Linked DNA regions of Homo sapiens: regions 1, 2, 4 and 5 are each linked to region 3. Evidence: fine-mapped expression QTL. A gene starts in region 3. Each other region holds a variant in brackets. All regions are shown on one strand. Distances are between the middles of the regions. Region 1 overlaps TMC2 (transmembrane channel like 2). Region 2 overlaps TMC2 (transmembrane channel like 2). Region 3 holds the start of NOP56 (NOP56 ribonucleoprotein). Region 4 overlaps TMC2 (transmembrane channel like 2). Region 5 overlaps LOC105372507 (a long non-coding RNA gene).

Evidence for each region.
Region 1: its variant is fine-mapped to the expression of NOP56 in whole blood (TOPMed, PIP above 0.99).
Region 2: its variant is fine-mapped to the expression of NOP56 in monocytes (Quach 2016, PIP 0.95).
Region 4: its variant is fine-mapped to the expression of NOP56 in whole blood (TOPMed, PIP above 0.99).
Region 5: its variant is fine-mapped to the expression of NOP56 in monocytes (Quach 2016, PIP 0.95).

What each region holds. Positions count from the first base shown.
Region 1 is chr20:2,556,143-2,561,271 of GRCh38, forward strand. TMC2 (transmembrane channel like 2) reads left to right here. Exons shown (of 20, transcript NM_080751.3): 3 at 2,314-2,632. Among named protein-coding and RNA genes, the nearest start is that of TMC2, 22 kb to the left of the region's middle. RefSeq lists an enhancer at 1,897-2,607. The variant G/A (reference allele first, on the strand shown) is at 2,640.
Region 2 is chr20:2,613,963-2,619,091 of GRCh38, forward strand. It overlaps TMC2 (transmembrane channel like 2), which reads left to right. Exons shown (of 20, transcript NM_080751.3): 15 at 2,175-2,242; 16 at 3,110-3,349. LOC105372505 (a long non-coding RNA gene) reads right to left here. Exons shown (of 5, transcript XR_007067502.1): 4 at 4,544-4,623; 5 at 84-170. Among named protein-coding and RNA genes, the nearest start is that of NOP56, 36 kb to the right of the region's middle. The variant C/T (reference allele first, on the strand shown) is at 3,042.
Region 3 is chr20:2,650,556-2,655,555 of GRCh38, forward strand. NOP56 (NOP56 ribonucleoprotein) reads left to right here and starts at 2,077. Exons shown (of 12, transcript NM_006392.4): 1 at 2,077-2,108; 2 at 2,287-2,376; 3 at 2,724-2,838; 4 at 3,859-4,020; 5 at 4,194-4,392; 6 at 4,770-4,957. The coding sequence starts at 2,106. MIR1292 (microRNA 1292) reads left to right here and starts at 2,222; the gene lies at 2,222-2,287. SNORD110 (small nucleolar RNA, C/D box 110) reads left to right here and starts at 3,657; the gene lies at 3,657-3,731. SNORA51 (small nucleolar RNA, H/ACA box 51) reads left to right here and starts at 4,512; the gene lies at 4,512-4,643. It also overlaps LOC105372505. RefSeq lists a silencer at 1,561-2,200 and enhancers at 2,701-2,790, 4,905-5,000.
Region 4 is chr20:2,621,573-2,626,701 of GRCh38, forward strand. It overlaps TMC2 (transmembrane channel like 2), which reads left to right. Exons shown (of 20, transcript NM_080751.3): 17 at 2,699-2,824. All of the region lies in intron 2 of LOC105372505 (a long non-coding RNA gene), which reads right to left. Among named protein-coding and RNA genes, the nearest start is that of NOP56, 28 kb to the right of the region's middle. The variant A/C (reference allele first, on the strand shown) is at 2,843.
Region 5 is chr20:2,671,621-2,676,749 of GRCh38, forward strand. All of the region lies in intron 2 of LOC105372507 (a long non-coding RNA gene), which reads right to left. Among named protein-coding and RNA genes, the nearest start is that of IDH3B-DT, 9.9 kb to the left of the region's middle. The variant G/GA (reference allele first, on the strand shown) is at 2,530.

The sequences.
Region 1 (5,129 bases), 94 kb before region 3:
CAGTGGTGCGATCTCGTCTCACTGCAACCTCCACCTCCTAGCGTCAAGTGATTCTCCTGCCTCAGCCTTCCCAGTAGCTGGGATTACAGGCACGTGCCATCATGCCTGGCTAATTTTTAATAGAGACGGGGTTTCACCATGTTGGCCAGGCTGGTCTCGAACTCCTGACTTCATGATCCACCCACCTCAGCCTCCCAAAGTGCTGGGATTACAGGCGTGAGCCACCAGGTTTGGCCTATTTTTTCTTTATTTATTGCTTCTTGAATGCTCTTCCTTTATGTAAATCCAAGTTTCTGACCTATGTCGTTTTCCTTCCCTCTGAAGAACCTCCTTTAACATTTTGAGGGGCTGGACAGGGTGGCTCATGCCTATAATCCCAGCACTTTGGTAGCCTAAGGCAGGAGAATCTCTTGAGGCCAGGAGTTTGAGATCAGCCTGGGCAAGATAGTGATACTCCATCTTTAAAAAAAAATTGTTTTTTAATTAGCTGGGAGGCTGAGGCAGGAGGATCACTTGAGCCCAGCAGTGCAAGGTTATAGTGAGCTATGATGGCACCACTGCACTCCAGCCTAGGCAACAGAGTCCCTGTTTCTAAATGAAAATAAAATAAAACTTTTTTTGCAAGGCAGGTCTACTGACAACAAATTATCTCCGTTTTTGTTTGTCTGAGAAAGTCTATCTTCCTCACTTTTGAAGAATACTTTTGATGGATACAGAATTCTGTCCTTTTTTTTTTTTCCGTCAGCACTTTAAATATATCACTCTACTCTCTTAACTTGCACAGTTTCTGGAGCAAAATCTAGTGTAATTCTTATCTTTATACCAACAGGTAAGGTGAGTTTTTTCCTCCAGCTTTTTTCAAGATTTTATCTTTGTCTTTGGTTTTCTGCAGTGTGAATACGATATGCCTAGGTGGAGATTTTTGGCATTTATCCTGCTTGATGTTCTCTGGGCTTTCTCGATGTGTGGTTTGGTGTTTGTCATTAATATTAGAAAATTCTTAGCAATTATTAATTCAAATATTTCTTCTGTTCCTTTCTCTGTTTGCCTTCTGGCATTCCCATTACACATATGTTACTCCTTTTGAAATTGTCCCACAGTTTGGGGATATTTTGTTCCATCTCTGAAATTTCTTTTCTTTTTGCTTTCAGTTTGGGAAGTTTCTATTGACATATCCTCCGCCCACTGACTCTTTCCTTGACTGTGACCAGTCTACTAATGAGCCCATCAAAGGTGTTCTTTACTTCTATTATAGTGTTTTTGGTTTTTACCATTTCTTTTTTATTGTTTCTTAGAGTTTCAATCTCTTTGATTACATTACTCATCTGTTCTTGCATGTTGTCCATTTTATCCATTAGATCTGTTAACATATTAATCAGTTATTTTTATTTTATTTTGTTTTCTTCAGATGGAGTCTCGCTCTTGTCGCTTAGGCTGGAGTGCACTGGTGTGATCTCAGCTCACTGCAACCTCCACCTCCCGGGTTCAAGCGATTCTCTTGCCTTAGCCTTCCAAGTAGCTGGAATTACAGACATGCACCACCACGCCCAGCTAATTTTTGTATTTTTAGTACAGATGGGGTTTCACCACCTTGGCCAGTCTGGTCTCCAACTCCTGACCTCACAGTGAAAATTTGGTAGGGCTCCTGGAGGTAAAACTGATGAAAGTGCGCCCCCACCAAGGCAGTCATTCTCACCCAGACCAGAAGCTTTCAGAATAGGTGGCCTTTGGACCTAGAGGGAGAAGAGATTTCTTTCCTTAGCCATTGCAAGGTTTGTGGATGAGACCCCAATAACAAAAGACAGATTAACAAGATAAACGCATCCAATTTTATTTAATGTAAGTTTTAGGGAACACAAGAGCCTTCAGAAACGAAGACCCAAATATACAGGGAAAACTGTATTTTTATGGAGAGTTGTGCAGAAGTATGATCGGAGGACAAAAGGGTATGATGTCATGGTAATCAACCAGGGGGAAGTAGCAAGGCCTGTTTGTTCCGATTCCTCTTGGCCTCTCTGTGTGACTTTCCTTTCCTTGGGTATAGGGCAGGACACCTGTCACAGGAGGTCTTCAAGGGAGACGGGAGGGAGAAGGCCAGAGAGTGACCTTCCTGCTTCTGCAGTTTTCTTAGTTTCCTTCAGCTTAAAATACTCAACATGCCAAGGTGCCATACTTTGGGGTGTCCTGTTCTGAGCCCCGCAGAGCTCACAAGCTCTCGGAATCATCTTGGACGTCTGATTTCTCACGGCCGGGGACATTTTCCTGGGCCTGAGGCCGTTGGAACCAGAACTGTCCATTTTCCCGCCCCGGCAGGTGACAGGCTGGGAAGGAGATCCTCAAGCAAGCGGGCTCTCAAAGCCGAGGGGACCCCAGGCAGGCGCGGAGCTCAGCGAAGCCAGAAGGAGCGCGCCGGGGGCAGCCCAAGCCCGGGGTCTCCCCGGAGGAAGCAAACAGGGCGCAGGAGACACAGAGAAGAGCTGGGGGAGCAGGAGCGGGGCGAGGCAGAGAGGACCTGCGAGGGCAGGAGAAAGCGCGACGAGAGGGCCTCCTTCCAGGAGCGGACAGCAGCCCCAAAGAGGGAAAAGGAGATTCCGAGGAGGGAGGAGAAGTCGAAGCGGCAGAAGAAACCCAGGTGTGTT[G/A]TGGCTCCGATTCTGGGCATTCGCTCCGCGCGCTCCCGCTCCTTCGCGGCCCTTCCCCTTCCCCCGTGAGGGACTGATGCCCCCCTCCCCGGGGAGAGGCAGCCCGTGCCCTCGCTCTGGCTTCCGTGCCTCCCAGCCCTTACCACTGCCCCACTCTGCGGTGGGTTCTTCATCCCAGAACCGGGATGAAGATCGCGGGTCCGCGCGGGGGAGTGGCCGCGGGCTCTCCACTCCAGCGCCTCGTGGCACCCGGTGAGGCGGGGCGCGGGTGGAGAGGTGGCGGGGCGCGGGTGGAGAGGTGACAGGGCAGCGGGTGGGACACGATCCCGCGTCCCCTGAACTCCAGCTGGTGACTCACCCCGGCTCTCGAAGAGGAGGAGCTGAGCGACATGAACAAAATCGGACTCAGGAACCATCTGAGGGCTTAAGCACACCTCGTTCCGGCTTCCGGATCTGGGCCAGTTTCCTCTGCTGGAAATGTGGCACTGGTCCAGGAGACCTTCAAGGATGCTACCAGCTCTGAAATTCTGGAGCTTGGAGGTTTTATTTGTTTTGCCTCCTTTGTTCCATTACCATTGGCACCAACTAGCACGTGTGGGTTAGTGGACAGGGCCAGCTTATGGCATCAGAAAGTGAAGATTTGGGGTTCATGTTTTTGTTATCAATTTTAATAGGTGTCTCTCTCTTTGCCTCCCTTTTTCAGTCATTGAGGATAACAGATGCCTTATTCGTTGCTCATATTGTTTTAAGAATTCTTTGTGATAGAATAGGAATTCTTTTGCAACAGTTGGGAATATTAGGATTATGGTGAAGAGTTGATGTTCTTTCCCGGTGGTTTGTAGCAAATCCTTTTTGCCCACAGCCTCAGTTGGGTGCTCCATCTTCCTCTCCACCTTTACAGAGAGGCTTTTAAACAAGGGCACTGATTTTTTTCCTGTCGCCATGCCAACCATCCTGGCTTGGTTACAGCCTTTGTCTACTGTCTGGTTGCTCCCAGACATGAACTAAAGAGGTAAAGGGTGCATCGTGCCCTTGGCCATTTAAAAATAACGTGAATGCACCGTTGATGGGCCCTGGGTGCCCTGAACTTTAGAGGGAGCCTGTACCATCCCAATGGGCCACAGACTCATTTATGTCATTTTCAGCTGAGGGCCATGCCAAGGCATTAGAGAGATGAAAACATTCAGTTCCCGTTGCCTAGATACTGACAGTGTGGCAGAGGAGATAACACATAGGCATTGGTAATCCTAAGACAAGGCAGAAAGCAATATGCATGCAAGACAGGACTTGATGGAGCGCTGAATTCCCCGGGTGCTGGGCCATCAGGGTTCCTCCATGGAGAAGGTGAACATCCCAGTGAGGCTTTGAATAACAGGTGGAATCTAAATAAGCAATGACTGAATGTCCAACACCCCAAACTGTGGGAACACCCTACGCAGAGACTCAAAGGCAGATATCATCAATTGGGTGTGCATGAAGTATGGCAAAAAAAAAAAAAATATCTCTGTGTTCTAGGCTTTTCAACCTTCAAGGGCATCCTAAAACTTCTTCTTTGCTCCCCAGGAGTTAATCAGAAGCTAAAACACCCAGAGGCTGCTGCAAACCTGTCTCTAAAACCTGCAGTAACCCAAGCCCACACCCTAATACTACCATTTATGAAACACACTCAGGCTGCCCAGCCATAACCCTTCCTTAGTCCTTTCCTTTACCTACCCGATTGGGCGCTGTCTCACTCAGCTGAGAGTCACTATTTTTCATCACTAAAGGAGTCAGAGGCCGGGCGTGGTGGCTCACGCCTGTAATCCCAGCACTTTGGGAGGCCGAGGTGGGTGGATCGCGAGGTCAGGAGATCGAGATCATCCTGGCTAACATGGTGAAACCCCATTTCTACTAAAAATACAAAAAATTAGCCAGGCGTGGTGGCGGGTGCCTGTAGTGCCAGCTACTCCGGAGGCTAAGGTGGGAGAATGGCGTGAACCCAGGAGGTGGAGCTTGCAGTGAGCCGAGATTGCGCCACTGCACTCCAGCCTGGGCCACAGAGCAAGACTCCATCTCAAAAAAAAAAAAAAAAATGGAGTCAGAATAGGCTGGAGGCTGTAGGGAGCACACACAGACACTTGGATTTTGTGACAACTGAGCACATAGTATTATCTGGGAGATGGGGAGCTCCCCAGCTGGAAATTCTCCACAGCCCTGCTGTCCAATATGACAGCCACTAGCTGCATGTGGCTGCTGAGCACTTGAAATGTGGCCAGTGTGACTGAGCAACTGAATTCCTCATTTAATTGTAACTCAGTGTTAATGCCACTGAGTTGACATAAGAGTTGGTGAATTTACTTAATTTGGACAGATGTAGTTTTGAAACTGATTTGATTTGACTTTGAAGCCAAAACAGTTCTTCTACAAAAAGACAAACTACTGTTGTCAATGCAGATACAAATATCAAAGGAAAACCATATTCTGCTACTTGATTCAGTTCTTGGGAATCTT
Region 2 (5,129 bases), 37 kb before region 3:
CTGGTGAAAGGCTCCGTAGGATGTTGACCTATGTATCCCTCATCCTGGCCTGGCCCAGGTAAGGGCCCCAGTACAGGTTTCTGTCACATTTTTTTTCGTTCAGTCACCAGTCTCAGTTTTAAACAAGTCTGCTGAGCTCCTCGGCAGCCAGGAAAGCTTCATAATCTTGTCTGAGAACGAAGATGAAAGAACTTTGTGCTCAAAGAGGATGACATCTTTGATAGAAAGACACAATATTACTAAGAGGTCATTGTTCTTAAATTTGTTTGTAAGATCACCACGATTTCCAAATAATACTAAAGTTCATTTGAAAAATAAGCATGTGAGAATATCCAGAAAAAATATTTAAAAAGAAGAATAAGGCCAGGTATGGTGGCTCACACCTGTAATCCTAGCACTTTGGGAGGCCAAATTAGGAGAATTGCTTGAGTCCAGGAGTTCAAGATCAGCCTGGGCAATTTAGCAAGACCCCATCTCTACAAAAAATAAAAAATTAGCTGGGTGTGCTGGTGCATGCCTGTAATCCCAGCTACTCAGGAGGCTAAGGCAGGAGGATCCCTTGATCCCTTGATCACACCACTGCATTCCTGCCTAGGCGACATAGTGAGGCCCTGTCTCAAAAAGTATATAAAGAAAAAATAAAAAGATGAATAAAAGGAACTAGACTTACCATAATACTAAAACATATGATAAAGCTATAATAACTAAAACTGGTACTAGAAAATAGACCAACATGTCAATGGAACAGAATAGAAAGTCCAGAAATAGATACTATCTACATGGGCCTTTAGTTTATGATAAAGGGAGACTTTCAAACACACTGGGGGGAAAGGATTATATTAAAATATATATAAATTATATAAAAATGTGGGGGATTATATCCCTCATTCATTTCATCTAGATTAATTTTAGGCACATCAAAGTCTTAAACATCAAAAAAATGAAAATATAAATTTCTAAAAGAAAGCATGTACAAACTTAGAATCTTGGAGTGAGGAAGATTTGTCTAAGTAGGACATGAAACCCAGTAGATATGTGTTTTTTTTAACATTTTAAAATATTAAAATTTAAATTCTGGGTGGGGGTGCGGTGGCTCACATTGTAGTCCCAGCACTTTGGGAGGCTGAGGTGGGTGGATCACTTGAGGTCAGGAATTCAAGACCATCCTGGCCAGCATGGTGAAACTCCATCTCTACTAAAAATACAAGAATTAGCTGGGCATGGTGCTGCACACCTGTAATCCCAGCTACTTGGGAGGCTGAGGCAGGAGAATCACTTGAACCAGGAGGCAGAGGTTGCAGTGAGCTGAGATTGTGCCACTGCACTCCAGCCTGGGCAACAGAGCGAGACTCCGTCTCAATAAATAAACATCCAAGACTTCACCCCGTGGACTTAATGTATGCATGTTTCCTTCTTCCATCCATGCATGCTGGCCCTTCCTTTGTCTCTTTCCTAACTTCTCATCTCTCCTTCTTGTGTTCTCATTTCCCTTTATCTCCATTTCTGGAAGACAAATTGGGATGTGGGCTTTAGCATGCTTCATGAGGACCCTCATATCCTCAGTGCTCACAGATTTTATGTTCTTTCAAATATTCGGACAAATCACGAAAACTGCAAATGAGGTAGGCTGAAAATATGAACCAAGCTGGGTGCTTTCCTTTCCGTGAACTGCTCTCAGACTGGAGGAAGAAGAGAAGGAGAAAGAAGAGTTGGAAGGATGATTTGGTTTTTGTTTGTTTTTAAGCTTTCTTTTCTTTTGACTCCTCATTTAATTATTTGCATTTCATTATTTATTAGATTTCTCCTTGATTATAATTTCAGGGTATGTTTCTGATTAAAACGTTGATAAAATGTTCTGTTAGAGGCGAGGGTCTTCCCAAGAACACGCTGTCAGCCTGCAAGGCCTGAAAGATAGAAACTGTCATTTTTTTGTTTACTGAAATAGGCATTTTTAAAGTTTCAGCTTTGAGAATGTCAAATTTTTTGTTTAAAAGTTGAAAACATATTAAAGAAATAGAATGCTAAATCTAAGGTTCTTCTCTAGTTACCAGAGCAGGCTCTTTGGGATGGAATGGCCTTGGCTTGGCCAGTTGGTTGGTAGTAGGGTTTGGCTGAATTCACCAAACGTGCTTTTTTTTTTCTCTCTCTCTCTCGCTCCCTCCCTCCCTCTCTAGCCTTCATATGCTGAGTTTGATATTAGTGGAAATGTGCTGGGTTTGATCTTCAACCAAGGAATGATCTGGTGAGTTATCCATTTCATCTGGTGATCGCCTCATCCAAGGAGTCAAAAAACTGGAATCCCAGACTTTGCAACTTAACTAGTTGGAAGAGGCTAGATAAGTCCTCTTGCCTCTCTGAACTCCCCTCTTTCACATGAAAAATCAAGAGCGGGACTAGATGAGAAGCAGGACAGTTTCTGGCCCACCCATGTGCTACCATAGAAGTAGAGAGAAAGGGAGAGGGGTTGGTGGAGGAGAAAAGGAAAAGGAAGGAAGGCAGGAGAGAAGGAGAAGAGGGAAGAAAAAGGGAAGAAGGAAGAAAGACAAAGGAAAGGGAAAAGGAAGGAGTAAAGAAGAGGAGGAAAAGAGGAGGAAAGGAAAATAAAGAAGGAGGGAGGGAGAAAAGAAGGAAGAGAAGGTGGAAGGTAAATGAACTATGGAACTCCCTCTTCTGAAAAGGGAGTTCAAGGAGGTACATAACTTCAGCCAAAGACTTTCAAGGTGCCAAGGGCTCGCTGCAAGCCACTGTCCAATTCTCTCAATTGAAGGACTTCAAATACTCTTCTGAGCAGCAATGCTGTTTTATGGAAACCGAGGAGAAACAGGCAGGAGACCGTATAATTTGCTAGATGCCTGGGGGCGAGTCAGTGGTAAAATCTTGGCCAGAGCTTAAGCCAGGAATGCTCGGAGTGCCTCCCTCTCCTGAGGACTGCATGGTTCTGGCTTGATGATCGATATTCTGGTTAAATGGGAGGCCCCTTACCTGGGGACTTGCCAGGAAAGCAGCTCGGCCTCATGCCCCTAACCCATCCGTCCCATTTC[C/T]TTCTATCACCCTTCCCTCGCCTTCCCTGCTGTCCAGCCAACCAGGTGTTTGGTTTCTGCCATTCCAGGATGGGCTCCTTCTATGCTCCAGGCCTGGTGGGCATTAATGTGCTGCGCCTGCTGACCTCCATGTACTTCCAGTGCTGGGCGGTGATGAGCAGCAACGTACCCCATGAACGCGTGTTCAAAGCCTCCCGATCCAACAACTTCTACATGGGCCTCCTGCTGCTGGTGCTCTTCCTCAGCCTCCTGCCGGTGGCCTACACCATCATGTCCCTCCCACCCTCCTTTGACTGCGGGCCGTTCAGGTGCAGAGTCTCAGTTGCCCGGGAGCACCTCCCCTCCCGAGGCAGTCTGCTCAGAGGGCCTCGGCCCAGAATTCCAGTTCTGGTTTCATGCCAGCCTGTAAAAGGCCATGGAACTTTGGGTGAATCACCGATGCCATTTAAGAGGGTTTTCTGCCAGGATGGAAATGTTAGGTCGTTCTGTGTCTGCGCTGTTCATTTCAGTAGCCACCAGCCACCTGTGGCCGTTGAGTGCTTGAAATGAGGAACTGAGAAAATTAATTTCTCATGTATTTTTCTCATTTATTTATTAATTTTTAACTGATAGTTGTACATATTTGGGGGTACATGTGATATTTGGATACATGTATACAATATATAATGATCAAATCAGGGTAACTGGGATATCCATCACATCAAACATTTATTTTTTATTCTTTTTAGACAGAGTCTCACTCTGTCACCCAGGCTGGAGTGCAGTGGTGCCATCTCAGCTTACTGCAACCTCTGCCTGCCAGGTTCAAGCGATTCTCATGCCTCCACCTCCCAAGTAGCTGGGACTACAGGCATGCACCACAATGCCCAACTAATTTTTGTATTTTTAGTAGAGACGGGGTTTTGCCATGTTGCCCAGGCTGGCCTTGAACTCCTGGCCTCAAACAATCCACTTGCCTCGGCCTCCCAAAGTGTTATGATTACAGGCGTGAGCCACCGTGCCTGGCCTAAACATTTATCTTTTCTTTGTGTTGGGAACTTTGAAATTATACAATGAATTATTGTTAACTGTCATCTCCCTGCTGTGCTATGGAACACTGGGACTTCTTCCCTCTATCTAACTGTATATTTGTACCAGTTAACCAACCGTACTTCATCCCCACTCCTCTCTATCCTTCCCAACCTCTGATCACCTCATTCTACTCTCTACCTCCATGAGATCCACTTTTTTAGCTCCCACATGTGAGTAAGAAAATGCAATATTTGTCTTTCTGTGCCTGGCTTATTTCACTTAACATAATGACTTCCTGTTCCATCCATGTTGCTGCAAATGACAGGATTTCGTTCTTAATTTCAATTAAAATAACCACACATGGCTAATGGCTACCATATTCGACAGCACAGTTCTACCCTTTTAACACATGGATAACTTACTACCTGGGATTACTTTACCATAGGATAAGTAATGGTGGATATTCTGAGGATGAATTACCATACACTTACACGTGCCGTTTAAATGTGAAGCAGCTGCAGTGGACTCTTGACAGACCTCAACTGAGCTCTCTGCTCTCCAGAGCATTGGCCTGGGGGTTCAATACATAAGTCAAGCTAGTTGGGAGACTAGATATTGTATAAAAAGACAAATAATTATGTAAGGAGGTAGATCAAGAGATAATGTGCATCTACTGTTCTCTTTCCAAATGCCTGACCTTCTGAAAACAAAGCCCTCTGCCAACTCCGTAAAGAGAGGTTCTGTGGTTAAAGCAGTTTAGGACGTACTGCCCCTTCTGTCTGCCATTATCTCACTTAGAAATGCTCAATGCACACTCCTTTGTTAAAGGCTCTGAAGAATCATGCAATGAGGTAACACCTGTAAGCTAGTGTCTCCGTCCTTATTGACCACAGAACCCTTTCTGCATGGATCACTCATCCAGGGCTGGAAATAGGGTGAGGCAGGTGAGTGACGCCCTACACTGCACATGAGCAACCCTGAGGGCATTACTTCCTTAAATTGTGCACTCAGGGCCTCACCCGCCTCACTCTAGTCCCAACCCTGCCTGCCAATGAGGAGAAACCCTGTCCCGTAAAA
Region 3 (5,000 bases):
CACATCCATATCTGATCACAAGCATTGGTTATCTCACCAGCAGAAGCACTTTTCTTCAGCCATCTCTGTAAGTCAGCAAACTACTTCATGACAGCTCCTTTGTAACCAGAGGACCCAAATTTTTCCAGAGTACGACTGGTTACCTTTTGGCTCATTGATTGACCCTCAGGTTTTTTATATTCTGATTTAACACACAAAAGTGTGTTCATATAGTTACATATATATGTATATATGAAAAATATTTGTGTACATATTTCTATATATGTATGTAGAGCTGAGACAAAAGTTTTACAATGAACAGCACCTTACTCTAAGCAACACACTCTTATTTCTATTCGCTTTAATCCTTTTTCTTTTTTTTTTTTTTTTTTTTTTTTTTGACAGAGCCTTGCTCTGTTGCCCAGGCTAGAGTGCAGCCTCTGCCTCCCGGGTTCAAGCGATTCTCCTTCCTCAGCCTCCCGAGTAGCTGGGATTACAGACATGCTCCACCACGTCCAGCTAATTTTTTTATTTTTTGGTAGAGACGGGGTTTCACCATGTTGGCCAGGCTGGTCTCGAACTCCTGATCTTAAGTGATCCGCCTGCCTCGGCCTCCTAAAGTGCTGGATTATAGCCCACCCAATCCTATTTTTTTAAATGCTGTCCATTAATGCATTCTGACTTCTTGCTTGAAAACCCCTGGTTTAGTGGATAAGCACCTGTAACTCCAGGAAGATTCAGGATTAAGGGCAGAAATAATGAAGTAAATTGAAGTATTAGCATTAGTATTTTCCATTACATTTTGGAATCGTCTATTTTGATGTATTCACGACGGTTAAAATAATTTAACATGCTAATGTATGGATTAACTTGGCAATTCCATTTTAAAATATTAAATGGAATAACGATTCTGACTCGTAAGTAGACATGTGTAACAGAATTCAACCACATCTGTAAACCATATTGAAATTATGAGAGTAAGATTTACCAACCACATTTAGGTTTGACATATTAGATTTGTGAGTGAACTATGTACTTGGATTTTGTCAAGTAACTCAATCGCTTAACAAAATAACAATTAAATGTATAAATGCAGTTTATAGCTATACATTATTTTTAAAAATCCCCTTCGAATGACTCTTTAAAACATACCAGGGGATACGCTACTTAAGTATAACTAGGTTTTGGATTTATAACGTTAATATTAATTATTAAAGCAAAACTCATTTCTAAAGAGTCGCCTGAGTGCCCAAAAGACGCCCTCAAGGACAGGGAAGCAGCTGCGATTCACTCAGCGATCACCAGCGCCCAGAATTCAGGGCCGCCCAAGCGGAGGAGCAACACGTGGCCCAGCAAAAGGAGCTGGGTCCCGTGCAGCACAGCAACAAGAAACTGGCCTAGGAAGACGCTGGAGCGTCTTTCTTTCGCACGTTACTGCCTGCTACAGTCATTTAAAAAAAAAAAACCAAAAACAAAAAAAAGAAATAAATTAATAGTACGAAGAAAACTGCGCGAGCTACATTCCCAGCAGGGTCTGCGCCAGAGCGCGCCAGGCACCGCTCCCGTTACGGGTGGGAGGAAAGGATGCACCGCCCACCCGGCGCCGGGGAGGCTCGTCCCCGAGTAGGGGACGGGAACGCCTGGGTCCCGGGGACGTGGGGCGCAGGGTCTGGGGCCCGAGGCCACGGACGAAGCGGGAAGCCGGCTAGGCAGCGGTCTCTGTCTGGGATGGACGCCGCGCCCCACGCGGACCTCCCGCCCCGACTTCACCCAGCTCTGCTGCCCGTAACTCATATGACAAGAACATCAGGAACCGGACTATTACCCCGAAAGGGCCTTCCCAAGTCGTTTCGCCGCCTGCAGTGCCCGACCGGGGGCCGCGCGTCCCCGGCAACCACGCCCGCCCGCGCAGCTGCAGAGGCCGGAAAAGGCCCGCTCGCCCGCGCTCGGCACCACCCAGCCCGCGCTCCGGGCGATACCACCCTGGGCGGCCCCTCCAAAGGCCGGAGATGGTGTCGTCCCCGGCCTCCGATTGGTCGGGGGGGCGGGGGCGTGGCCTCTGGAGCCTGGTTCCGCGCGCCGGAGCGCGCTAGCCGCATTGCGAGCCGAACCCGGGAGCTGGCGCCATGGTGAGGAGTGGTTGCGGGGCGCGGGCGACGCGACGGTGGGGGTTTCGGCCTGCGTTCGGGCCGCAGACAGGGCCTGGGCCTGGGCCTGGGCCTGCGCCTGCGCCTGCGCCTGCCCTGGGAACGGGTTCCGGCAGACGCTGAGGTTGCGTTGACGCTCGCGCCCCGGCTCCCGTTCCAGGTGCTGTTGCACGTGCTGTTTGAGCACGCGGTCGGCTACGCGCTGCTGGCGCTGAAGGAAGTGGAGGAGATCAGTCTGCTGCAGCCGCAGGTGGGTGAGATCCGTGGGCTCCTTTGGCGGCCCCGCAGACCCTCATCGCGCGGGTCCCAGCATGCACAGCGCGCTCCCACGTGGCCGGCCGAGCGGTTCGGGGCGGGGGGACGGGCCTGGAAAGCTCTAGATCCGGGGGTCTTTACCTTGACCCATGGGTAGAATCGCTCTAGCAATTAGAAATAAGCCTCCCGGACGCCGCCCCCGAACGATTAAAGCAGAAGCTGGGATGTGGGGCCCAGGTATCAGCATATTTTAAGAGCTTCCAAGGCTGAGAACCGCTGCTTGACTGCGCCGCAGAGGCAGGAGGGAGGGAAGGAAACCACTTAGCCTCTTTCTCCCCCCAGGTGGAGGAGTCTGTGCTCAACCTGGGCAAATTCCACAGCATCGTTCGTCTGGTGGCCTTTTGTCCCTTTGCCTCATCCCAGGTTGCCTTGGAAAATGCCAACGCCGTGTCTGAAGGTAAGTCGGCCACCGCCAAGTGTCACAGAGAGATGTGGTTCCTTTCGGTATCCTCTCGGGCAGCTTGTGATAGTATTTGCCGTCCTTGGCTGGCTCTGAGTCTGATAGGCGTGAGGCAGTATTTGAGCCATACAATGTGTAATTTGAAATAATTGTCTTCACAGAGCTCAAGGTCTGGGAACTGTGCTAGACCAAACTGTTTAAGCAGACGATGTGGAATGTGTGTTAACGTTTCCTTGTGGGCACTGTAGTGACAAACTATTTTTTATTTTTATTTTTTTTGAGATGGAGTCTGTCCCCCAGGCTGGAGTGCAGTGGCAAGATCTGGGCTCACTGCAACCTCTGCCTCCCTGGTTCAGGCGATTCTCCTGCCTCAGCCTCCCGAGTAACTGGGATTACAGGCCTGTGCCAGCCACCACACCCGGCTAATTTTGTATTTTTGGTAGAGACGGGGTTTCACCATGTTGGCCAGGCTAGTCTCCATCTCCTGACCTCGTGATCCGCCCGCCTCGACCTCCCAAGGTGCTGAGGTTGCAGGCGCGAGCGACGGTGCCCGGCCGACAAAGGGGGGTTTCTTAAAGGGGGTCGGCTTAACACCTACTTGTGCCTGAGGTTTTGCCTAAACACAATCAAGTGTCTGGTTCTCTGCTTTCTGTTCGATTGGAAAGGGCAGTTGGGTAAACACAGGCTGAGAAAAAAAGGTTTGGTTCCAGAAGGCAAATTCTACGAAATACTCGAGGGTGTGTTACAAGCTATTATTTATTGCCCACTTGTGCTATCAGACCTGAATGCAGTTGTTCCCATGGCTGGGCCAGGCTTTGCAGTGATGACTTGCGAATCAAATCTGTCAATCCCCTGAGTGCAATCACTGATGTCTCCATGTCTCTGAGCAATGCCTGATGGGGAGGGATCTAGGTATGCCATCCCAGCGTGCTCGGTGGGACCAGGGTAGTCAGCTGAGGGATGTTAGAGTTGATCGTCCTTCAGCCTGTTAGTGGGAACTGTGTTCTTTCCCCTGAGGGGTTGTTCATGAGGACCTCCGCCTGCTCTTGGAGACCCACCTGCCGTCCAAAAAGAAGAAAGTACTCTTGGGAGTTGGGGATCCCAAGATTGGTGCCGCAATACAGGAGGAGTTAGGGTACAACTGCCAGACTGGAGGAGTCATAGCTGAGATCCTGCGAGGTGAGACCATCATCTGTTATATTCCTGTTATCCTGGACATTTTGGGGGAGGAGGTTCTGGAAACTTGGTTGCTTGTTGTGATTTCTGGGAAGGCCTTCAGGCTGGGCTGGTGCCCGTGGGTGCGGGAGCTAGCTCAGAGCCCCTTGTTGCTCACCGTCTTGCCCTCTTCTTAGGAGTTCGTCTGCACTTCCACAATCTGGTGAAGGGTCTGACCGATCTGTCAGCTTGTAAAGCACAGCTGGGGCTGGGACACAGCTATTCCCGTGCCAAAGTTAAGTTTAATGTGAACCGGGTGGACAATATGATCATCCAGTCCATTAGCCTCCTGGACCAGCTGGATAAGGACATCAATACCTTCTCTATGCGTGTCAGGTAAAGTGCAGGGGCCACCCATAATACTGGAGCCTTTGGTCTGTAGTTCAGTTAATTTTGAGTCTTGATGAGGACTGACCATCCTGTGGGTAGAACCATGTGGGCTGGGGCTGGGTGTAGGCCTCCTGGTGCTTACCACAGGCTGTGTTCTTACACTGACTGTATAGAAAGAGGAGGTAGAGTAAACCTACCCCATATACACCTCAGCTCAGGCCCTGTGCCTGGTCTGTATTGTGAATGGGGGAACATAGAATTGAGGAAGATTTGGATCTTTGTCCCATTTCCTCCAGGCAGAGTAGGTGTGGAGAAGGCAAGGCTGTAGCTCTATGGTTTTTGATGAAGCAGCTGGGCCAGGGAGTGACTGTGGCTCTTTGCAGGGAGTGGTACGGGTATCACTTTCCGGAGCTGGTGAAGATCATCAACGACAATGCCACATACTGCCGTCTTGCCCAGTTTATTGGAAACCGAAGGGAACTGAATGAGGACAAGCTGGAGAAGCTGGAGGAGCTGACAATGGATGGGGCCAAGGCTAAGGCTATTCTGGATGCCTCACGGTCCTCCATGGGTCAGTGCAGAGCCTGGCAACCTGCATAAGGTATGGGGCTCTA
Region 4 (5,129 bases), 29 kb before region 3:
GCAGGAGAATCACTTGAACCCGGGAGGCAGAGGTTGCAGTGAGCCGAAATCATGCCACTGCACTCCAGACTGGGCAACGAGCAAGACTCTGTCTCAAAAAATAAAAAATAAAACCCCTAATGGAGCTTGGCTGATTGGATTTCAAAATTGCTTGAGGTTGGTGATTCTTTCTTCCTTCCATTTTCTCCTTTTTGGTATTGGAAAGTTTATAACTGTTATCCTATGCCTGCCCCAGGTTAGTTTCAACCCAGTGAATCCCTTTCAGACTTCTGGCCTCCAGAACTGTAAGATATTAAATTTGTATTGTTTTAAGCCACCAGCGTGACAAACAGCAGGCACTAGAATCTGATACACCATCTAATTCAACGACAAAATAATCTACATTCAACTGTCACATAAAAGCCTAACACGTAAACTTAACTTTTCTCATTTGTACATGGCGGGTATGCACTGGAAATAAAAATAATAATAATAATAAATGAAACATTGTCATACAGTGATGTGCCTGGCACTTGAAATGCCATCATGCTATAACTGCGTCATTGCAATTTGTGGTGTGCTGGGCAACAGTTGTAAGCAATGAGATGGCCACAAATGGTCTCTGACACAACTGCTCTTCCCTGTCATTATAGCACAAAAAATGAGTGAGCATGGCTGTGTTCCAATAATACTTTATTTACAGACACTAAAATTTTAATTTTATACTTCAATTTTTACATGTCACAAAATAGTATTCCTGTTTTGACTTGCTTTCAACTACTTAAAAATGTAAAAATGATTCTTAGCTCACAGACCATATGAAAACAGGTGACAGACTAGGCGCAGTGGCTCACACCTGTAATCCCAGTACTTTGGGAGGCCAAAGCAGGTGGATCACCTGAGGTCAGGAGTTCAAGACCAGCCTGGCCAACATGGCGAAACCCCGTCTCTACTAAAAATACAAAAATTAGCCGGGCGTAGTGGTGCCTGCCTGTAATCCACCAGGCATTGTGTGTAAACTCTGGAGGCTGAGACAGGAGAATTGCTTGAAACCCAGAGGCAGAGGTTGCAGTGAGCTGAGATTGCACCACTGCACTCCAGCCTGGACGACAGAGAGAGACTCTGTCTCAAAAAAAAAAGAAAGAAAGAAAAGAAAAGAAAGAAAAAGAAAACAGGTAACAAGCTGAATTTGTCCATGAGCCATTGTCGGTGAACTCCTCATCTATACTTTACACAGAAAATGTTTAGCTGCAAAATTTTGAAGGGCGCTTATAACTTAACAGCACTACACTCAATGTTTTATATCAATTCTCATCTATATCCTCTAAACAATCTTCTGAGATAAATACAATTATTATACTTAAAATACCATATTATACTATAGTATTATTATACTACATTATACAGATGGGGAAACTGGGGCAGAGAAATTTTCAATACCTTGCCCAAAGGTATTGAACTTCTGCAGATATTGAACATCCAATAGAACTTACTGTAATGATGAAAACATTCCATATCTGCATTTCTAACACAGCAGCTACTAATCATATGACTATTAAGCACTTGAAATGTGTAACTAAGAAACTGAATTTCAAATTTGACTTCATCTTAATTTTTATTTTTAATAGCCACATCAGACAGCACAGCTTTCGTGGGGAGAACCAGGGCATGATATGAATACAAGCAGAAAGAGAATAATTGTCAGGCCGGGCACAGTGGTTCACGCCTGTAATCCCAGCACTTTGGGAGGCTGAGGTGGGCGGATCATTTGAGGTCAGAAGTTTGAGAGCAGCCTGGCCAACATGGTGAAACACCATCTCTACTAAAAATACAAAAAATTAGGCAGGCGTGGTGGCGCTCACCTGTAATCCCAGTTACTTGAAAGGCTGAGGCAGGAGAATTGCTTGAATCCGGGGGTGGAGGTTGCAGTGAGCTGAAATTGTGCCACTGCACTCAAGCCTGGGTGTCAGAGTGAGACTCCATCAAAAAAAAAAAAAAGACAGAGAGAGAGAGAATAATTGTCCACGTGTCTCACCAGTGATAAATGGGGGATCAAGGATTTAAACCAGGAATTTCAAACCCCGTATTCCACCTCTTGGCACCAAAATTATCAACCAAGAGCCAGCAGCATCCAGGAGTCTCTGGGCCAGCATTTGTAGAAGTAAATCTGCATAATGGTTCTTAGGTATTTGAAGAAAATAAAAATTACAGTTGTGAACTGTCCAGGAGCCTGTCCTAGGTGATCCAATATCTCCTAGACTTAAAATCTGAAGGTTAATTCTAGGTATTTCTGAGAGACACTCAGGTTGTCCAGCACATCAGCTTCTGCAGAACTGTTTCCCAGGCCCAAAGGAAGCTCCATGTTGGCCTGGTAGCTACAAACACAGACAATTTCTCCAGTTAGAATACATGAGGAAAACCATTTTTTTCTGGCTGAGGAAGGTGTCAGACACAAAAGACCAGTGAAGGCTAAGAGGTTGTAAGTTACTTAGGATAGAAAGCCGGTGAGCCGTGTGCCGACCCAGCTGTCACCCTAGCCAGAATGGCAGCCCCTCAGGGGGAATTTTTTACTTGCAGTTCATTTGGAGCAGAGCTCTGGTTCTTCCAGGAAAGCAGTGGCAGGCAGCAGCCCTGGACCTGGGTAGGGGGGCCATGGACACAGCTGTGAATGCCACAGGCACATGGCAGCATGTTATATTGTGTCCTCTCCTTTTTCCAGTGGGAAAAACAGAATGTACGATGTCCTCCAAGAGACCATTGAAAACGATTTCCCAACCTTCCTGGGCAAGATCTTTGCTTTCCTCGCCAATCCAGGCCTGATCATCCCAGCCATCCTGCTGATGTTGTAAGTTAGCCAGGACCC[A/C]TGGCTCCACCCCACGGAAACTTCTCCTTGAATTTGAGACTTCCTTGGCAGGTCCTTTTCATCTTGCCTTCTTAGTCTGCACTCCCCAGAAGCAGAATCCATGACAAGGATTCAAGTGTAAGTATTTTATTAGGGAGGGGGTGAGGACTTGAGACAAGGAAGGGAAAGGAAAATGCATGGTTATCACTGTGAGAATTCTGGGAGGCAGTGTGCCTCAGACTCAGCCCTCCCTAAGGGCAAAGGATCCGAGGCATTTATAGACCAGCTCCCAGCGTCATTCATGGGTAAAATGGCTTCAAGGGGTGTGAGTGAGGGGTCCAAGAGGGAAGGGAAGCTTCTGGTAACAGAGATGAGGGCACCAGCAAGTGCAAGTCTTTTGGAGCACACTGAAAATTTGGGTGAGCCCTGACAGTATCTGCAACAACTCCCACTAAAATGCTCACTAGAAATATCAAAGTCCTGTGGGCTCTGAGCCTATCAGGAAGCTGAACGGTGATTCGGCCTGATCCTGGCTGGGCCCACAGCACTACTCGATGGAGCAGCTTATACACTGGAACAAGCTGGTTCCTTCATCACTGTCCCCCTCAACAACCATTAGAGAACAAGTTCGAAAATCTCTGTATCCCCGGTGCCAGCCTAATGCCTAGAGCATAGCAGGCAAACAGTAAATGCTCAAGGAAAGAACTAGGGAAGAAAGGCAGGAAGCCAGAGTCTTGGATTGGAATTGTTGCCATCAAAAAATGTGCTAGTAAAAATGTTAGCATTTTTTCTTTATTTAAAAAAATCTTATTTTGGCATGCTTTTTTAAAAATTATGAAATATTCCCAGCATACAAATGAGTACAGACAACCATGTACACGATCACAAGATTCAACAGATGTTAACATTTTGCAATATTTACTTCAGGTTTATCTTTCTTCGTAATAGAAATAAAACATTACAGATGCACTTCAAGCCCCACTCAATCCTTCTTTCTTCCTCCCTCCCCAAAGGTAACTATTATACAGACTAGATTTAATTATTTCCATGCATATTTTGTACTTTTTAATCACATGTGTGTATAGTACTGTTTCCGGAGTTTTAAACCTTTTCATGAATGACTCACATTACATGCTTTTCCTCAAACAACATTATGTTGGGGGATTTATCCATGCGGATACATGAGCACATGTTTGAAGGCTCTACTATGTTCCATCTCATGAATAAGCCACAGTTTATCCATTCCTCTGCATAGGGATAGTTAGGCTGTTTCCACTTTTCGGCTATTGCAAACTGCGCTCCAGCCAACATTTTGTATATATCTCCTTGCACAATTCTGAGAGTTGCTCTAAGGTAGACATCTAGAAGCAGAATTGTGGGTCATCAGCATGTGTTTCTTCAATCTTTTTAGATCTTACAGAATTGCTCTCCAAAGTGGTTGTATTCCCTTTGGACTGTTATTTATAAATTCCAACTCTCCGGTGAAATTCTCCAGCTTTCTATTTTCTTGAACATAGTGGTTATAATTACTTTTAAAATCCCAGTCTGATATTCCAATATCTGAACCACCTGGGTGTATTTTTGTTGTCATTTGTTTTCCTCTTGTTTATCCTCAGCCCTACTTTTATCATGGCATGTAATTTTTACTAGATGTCAGACATGTGGATGAAAAATTATAGAGGCTGTGAATAATGTTATCTTTCCCCAAAGGGATGGGTTTTTTTTCCTGAAGGGCAAATGGAATACTAGGAGATCACTTAATCCTGTCAAGACTTGATGTTTTAGCTATCTATTATTACATAAGAAACAACCCCCAAAACTGAAAAATAATATTTTATTAATGAATCTGCAATTTGGGTAGGACTTAGCAGGAATCATTCTTTTCCTCTCTACTCAACATCATCTGGGTCAGCTCAGCTGGAGGCTGGAGGGCCCACTTTCAAGATGGTCACTCACATGACTGGCCAGCTGGCACTGGAGGCCTCACTTCCTTCTCACAAGCTGCTTGGGCTTCCTCATAGTATGGTGGCTGAGTTTCAGGAGCAAGCATCCCAAGAGAATGCAGTGGATATACATGGCATCTTTACTTACTCCTGCCATACTCTATTGAAGCAATCACAAAGGGATACCCAGGTTCAAGAGAAAGAAATATAGACTTATCTTTTGATGAGGCAATGACAAGATTCTAGAAGCACATGTAAGACAGGAGTCATAGTATTGTGGCCATCTTTGGAAAATAGTTTGCTATTGCTAGCTTTGGGCTTTCTCAGGGCTGATTTATTTCAGTTTTGCCCTATTTCCAAGACAC
Region 5 (5,129 bases), 21 kb after region 3:
AGTGAAACTGCTGATACCTATCACCTTGACCCAGCTTTATTTTCTCAATTATACCAGTTACTACGAGACATCATATTATGCATTTCTGCTTTTTTTTTTCTTTTGAGACAGAGTCTCACTCTGTCGCCCAGGCTGGAGTGCAGTGGCACGATCTCAGCTCACTGCAACCTCTGCCTCCCAGGTTCAAGCAATTCTCCTGCCTCAGCCTCCCAAGTAGCTGGGATTATGGGCATGCACCACCACACCTGGCTAATTTTTGTATTTTTAGTAGAGATGAAGTTTCACCATGTTGGCCAGGCTGGTCTTGAACTCCTGACCTCAAGTGATCCACCCACCTCAGCCTCCCAAAGTGCTAGGATTACAGTCATGAGCCATCACGTCCAGTCTGTATTTATTCTTAAAGTATATTATTGCTTGTGTTTGCAGGGAGCAACCTTGAGGAATGAGGAACTATCTTCCTAAAGAGCAGGCTTGCTTATTCCCTGCTGTGAAAGGGGTGGGTTCCCCAAGCTCAGTGTTCCCCTAGATGCCACACAAACCCACAGCATCCACCAGGGCCCTCCACATTGCCCCCTGGAGGACAAGGGGACAGGGGGACGAGGGAGTCAATATAAACATGCTGCCTAGGCTGCTTGCTGTGCCTTAATAAAGTCCTTTGTCTCTGACTCGGGAGTCTCATCTTTGCCAGCATGCATGAAACAGTAAGAGGCGAATTATTCACACATCAGCAGGGAAAATTCAAATGCCAGGCCCTGACAGTTTTGGCAATGAGGACAGGCTGCTGATAAACATGACTTTCTGGAAGAGGAAGGATAAGGACCTTATGGACCAGATTAGGGGATATGAAAAGACTCCTTGGCATATGTTAGTGGATCCTCTCACCCAAATGGTGGGTGGCAGGGGTAGGGTGGATAGGATAAGGAGCTCACACTGTCCTACCTTAATGAGTTTAAGCAACGAGAGGTAGGGTTGAAACAAGCCACTCAAACGGTGCTTCGTTTCTTGCTCAGGAGGAGGAAGGGATGTTATGACAAGGGGGCAGCAAGCCCCACAGCTGCACTCAAAAGGCAACATGGATGTGGCTGCTGAGTCAAAGAATCCCCAAAGCTGAAATACATGGTATCAGCCATCATGTTTGATACAGAGCTTCACAGTGACCCCAAAACACTACAAGGTATTTGGATAAGCCCCACAGGTGGCCACTGGAAGCCTTGCTCACTGGCACAGGCTCGCTCTCTCCCCTGTGTTCCCCAATCCCTCTATTCCCGCTCTACTCCACCTCCGGCTGCTTTTATTTAATTTATTAATTTATTTATTGAGATAGGGTCTTGCTCTGTCACCCAGGCTGGAGTGCAGTGGCATGATCACGGCTCATTGCAGCCTCGACCTTTTGAGCTCAGGTGATCCTCCCACTTCAGCCTCGCTAATAGCTGGAACCACAGGTGCACACCACCACACCTGGCTTATTTTTTGTAGAGCCGGGGTTTCGCCATGTTGCTCAGGCTGGTCTTGAACTCCTGGGCTCCAGCGATCCACCTGCCTTGGCCTCCCAAAGTGCTGGGATTACAGGCGTGAGCCACCGTGTCTGGCTCAGCTGTTGTAATGAAAAAGTTGAGTATGCTGGGGAACTTCACGGAGGCAAAGTCCTCAAAACTTGTATATCTCTGTTGGGCCCAAGTGCCCAATTCACCATCTTACCTAGTTCCGTGGATGGGTGCAGAGATGGCTGAAGGCACCACCCCAGGACTGCAGTGTGGACTGGGGACAAAATGAAAGGGGCCTCGGGGCTTGGGAACTCTCTGGATGGACACTGGAGCTACACAGAGGAAGCAGCAGCAATGCCAACCCTGAAGCCAGGGGCCAAGGAGAAATAAAAGCCTCCTAGCTGCACCCTGTGAGCTAGCCTGAGCTCCCGGCAGCTGTTGCTTTTGCTCCTGATGTGCACACACTAAACACCTTGGTTTGTTTTCCCAGAAGGTAAAAAATCCCCCAAGTTCAACTGATAGGCTTTGAGCAAAGTTTGCAGTGGAAGAAGGCAAATTAAGTAACGCTCCATGTGGGGCCCTTGGGCCAATTCAGTGGCTTTCACTGCAAATGTATTACTGGTATTGATGCTCATACCGGCCTGTACTGCCAATGCCCATAAGTGTCAGATGGGATTCGCCCTTTCAGAGACTGCCACATGTGGAAAGGTGGTTTCTGAACCCTCTTAGATGGTCCAGGAGAAACAGTTTAGACTTTCAAGAGGGAGGCCAGGTGCAGTGGCTCATGCCTGTAATCCCAGCATTTTGGGAGGCTGAGGCTGGGAGATGACGAGGTCAGGTGTTTGAGACCAGCCTGGCCAACATGGTGAAACCTGGTCTCTACTAAAAATACAAAAAGTAGCCGGCCGTGGTGGCGGGCGCCTGTGATCCCAGCTACTCAGGAGGCTGAGGTAGAAGAATCGCTTCAACCCAGGAGGAAGAGGTTGTAGTGAGCCGAGATCGTGCCACTGCATTCCAGCCTGGGCGACAGAGCAAGACTCCATCT[G/GA]AAAAAAAAAAAAAAAAAATCAGGAAGGAAAAGGGAAATCTGAAAATTAGTCTCAAAGGTGGCCAGATTACTCAGAGGCTGTTCTCAAGCACAATAGCACCACCTGCCTGACACACTCACCAAGCACATAGCTTTAAAAAAATTGTTTAGAGGCCAGGTGCAGTGGCTCACGCCTGTAATCCCAGCACTTTGGGAGGCCGAGGCAGGTGGTTCACCTGAGGTCAGGAGTTCAAGACCAGCCTGACCAATATGGTGAAACCCTGTCTCTACTAAAAATACAAAAATTAGCCGGGCATGATGGCATGCGCCTGTAGTCTCAGCTACTCCGGAGGCTGAGATAGGAGAATTGCTTGAGCCCAGGAGGCGGAGGTTGTGGTGAGCTGAGATCACGTCACTGCGTTCCAGCCTGGGTGACAGCGAGACTCGGCCTAAAAAAAAAAAAATTGTTTAGAGAGTGGTTGCTGATCTGTCACCCAGGCTAGAGTGCAGTGACACCATCAGAGCCCCCTGCAGTCTTGAATTCCTGGGCTCAAGCCATCCTCTCACCTCACTGTCCTGAGCAGCTGGAACGACAACTGTGAGCTACCATGCCCGGCTAATTTTACAAAATTTTTCATAGACGTGGTCTCTCAGGCTGGTCTTAAACTCCTTGCCCTCAGGTGATCCTTCCATCCCACCACACCTGGCCCCATCCCTCCCCCATCCCCCTTTTTTGTTTGAGACAGTCTCTCTCTGTCGCCCAGGCTGGAATGCAGTGGCACAATCACAGCTCATTGCAGCCTGGAACTCCTGGGCTCAAGCAATCCTCCCCACTCAGCCTCCTGAGTAGCTTGGTGCCTGCCACCACGTACCATGCCAGCTAATTTTAAAAATACATTTTTGTAGAGATGAGATCTTGCTTTGTTCCCAAGGCTGGTCTTGAACTCCTGGCTTCAAGTGATCCTCCCTCCATAATCCCAAAGCCCTGGGACTACAGGCCTGAGCCACCACATCCGGCCCCATCCCCTCTTTTTTATTTTATTTTATTTTATTTTATTTTATTTTATTTTATTTTACTTTATTTTATTAAGACAGAGTCTTGCTCTGTCTCCCCGGCTGCCAGGCTGGAGTGCAGTGGCATGATCTCAGCTCACTGCAACCTCCACCTCCCAGGTTCAAGCTATTCTCCTGCCTCAGCTTCCCGAGTAACTGGGACTACAGGCATGCGCAACCACACCTGGCTTTTTTGTTTGGTGGTTGTTTTTAAGTAGAGACAGAGTTTCACCATGTTGGCCAGGCTGATCTTGAACTCCTGACCTCAAGCGACCTGCCCTCCTCGGCCTCTCAAAGTGCTGGGATTACAGGCATGAAACACCATGCCAGGCCCCCATCCCCTTTTTAAAAAGGTGCCCACTAACTTGTTACTGACCCAAAAAGTTCCTGTGACTCTCCAAACTGACACTCCCATTTTGGGATGGGTCAACTTGGATTTGGTGGCTACTAAGGGAGGGGCACAAAAGGCATTATTAATCCAATGGAAATACTGTATTCAGTAACACAGCTGGCCTGGTCCTAATATTAGCTGGGTTTTACATGAAAAAGTGGCAGCAAAAATCCCTTCAGGGGAAATCTTTTCCTAACTTCACCACTTGAAGCAAAGCTGCTGGCTCAATGGGGCCCTCAAGTCACAGAGGGTTCCCTAGGCACCTGGCCTGGTACAATGATGGTTTGGCTAGGCTGACACCTTATAGTGTCCACGTTCAACCTCAGCACCAGCTATGCAGAACCAAAAACAGGCATGGGCTGGGCGTGGTGGCTCACGCCTGTAATCCCAGCACTTTGGGAGGCCGAGGCGGGTGGATCACTTGAGGTCAGGAGTTCCAGATCAGCCTGGTCAACGTGGTGAAACCCCGTCTCTACTAAAAATACAAAAATTAGCCGGGCGTGGTGGCGTGCATCTGTAATCCCAGCTACTTGGGAGGCTAGGGGAAGAGAATTGCTTGAACTCAGGAGGCGGAGGTTGCAGTGAGCCGAGATCGCGCCATTGCACTCCAGTCTAGGCAACAGAGCGAGACTCCATCTCAAATTTAAAAAAATAATAATAAATAATAATTTTTTAAAAAAAGCAAGCATGACTGCTCCACTCAATGGACAGAGCTCAAGGGAGTGCTGATAGTTCTGGCCAATACTCCCCGTGATGAACCCTTCTACATTTTTACTGCCTTTTGTGTGGTTGCCAATGGCCTAGCTATCTTGCCCACAAGACTGGAAGATTAAAGACATTCCCTATTGCAGCTGCATATTGTGGAAATAATTTCAGCTGCCAATCAGATGCCCAAGTTACTCACAGAGATGCCCATGGTAAGGGCCCTTCTCTAATGAGACAAACTGTAGTCAAGCTGCTGATCCAGACTTCACTGCCCATACCACCACCATCACCACCTAGATCCGTCATCGAACAAGACATAACAACACATTCACCATCGTGGACTGAGCACAAAATCAAAAACTGTTTCAGGCCAGGCGCAGTGACTCACACCTGTAATCCTAGTACTTTGGGAGGCCAAGGCAGGCGGATCACTTGACGTCAGGAGTTTGAGACCAGCCCGGCCAACATGGTG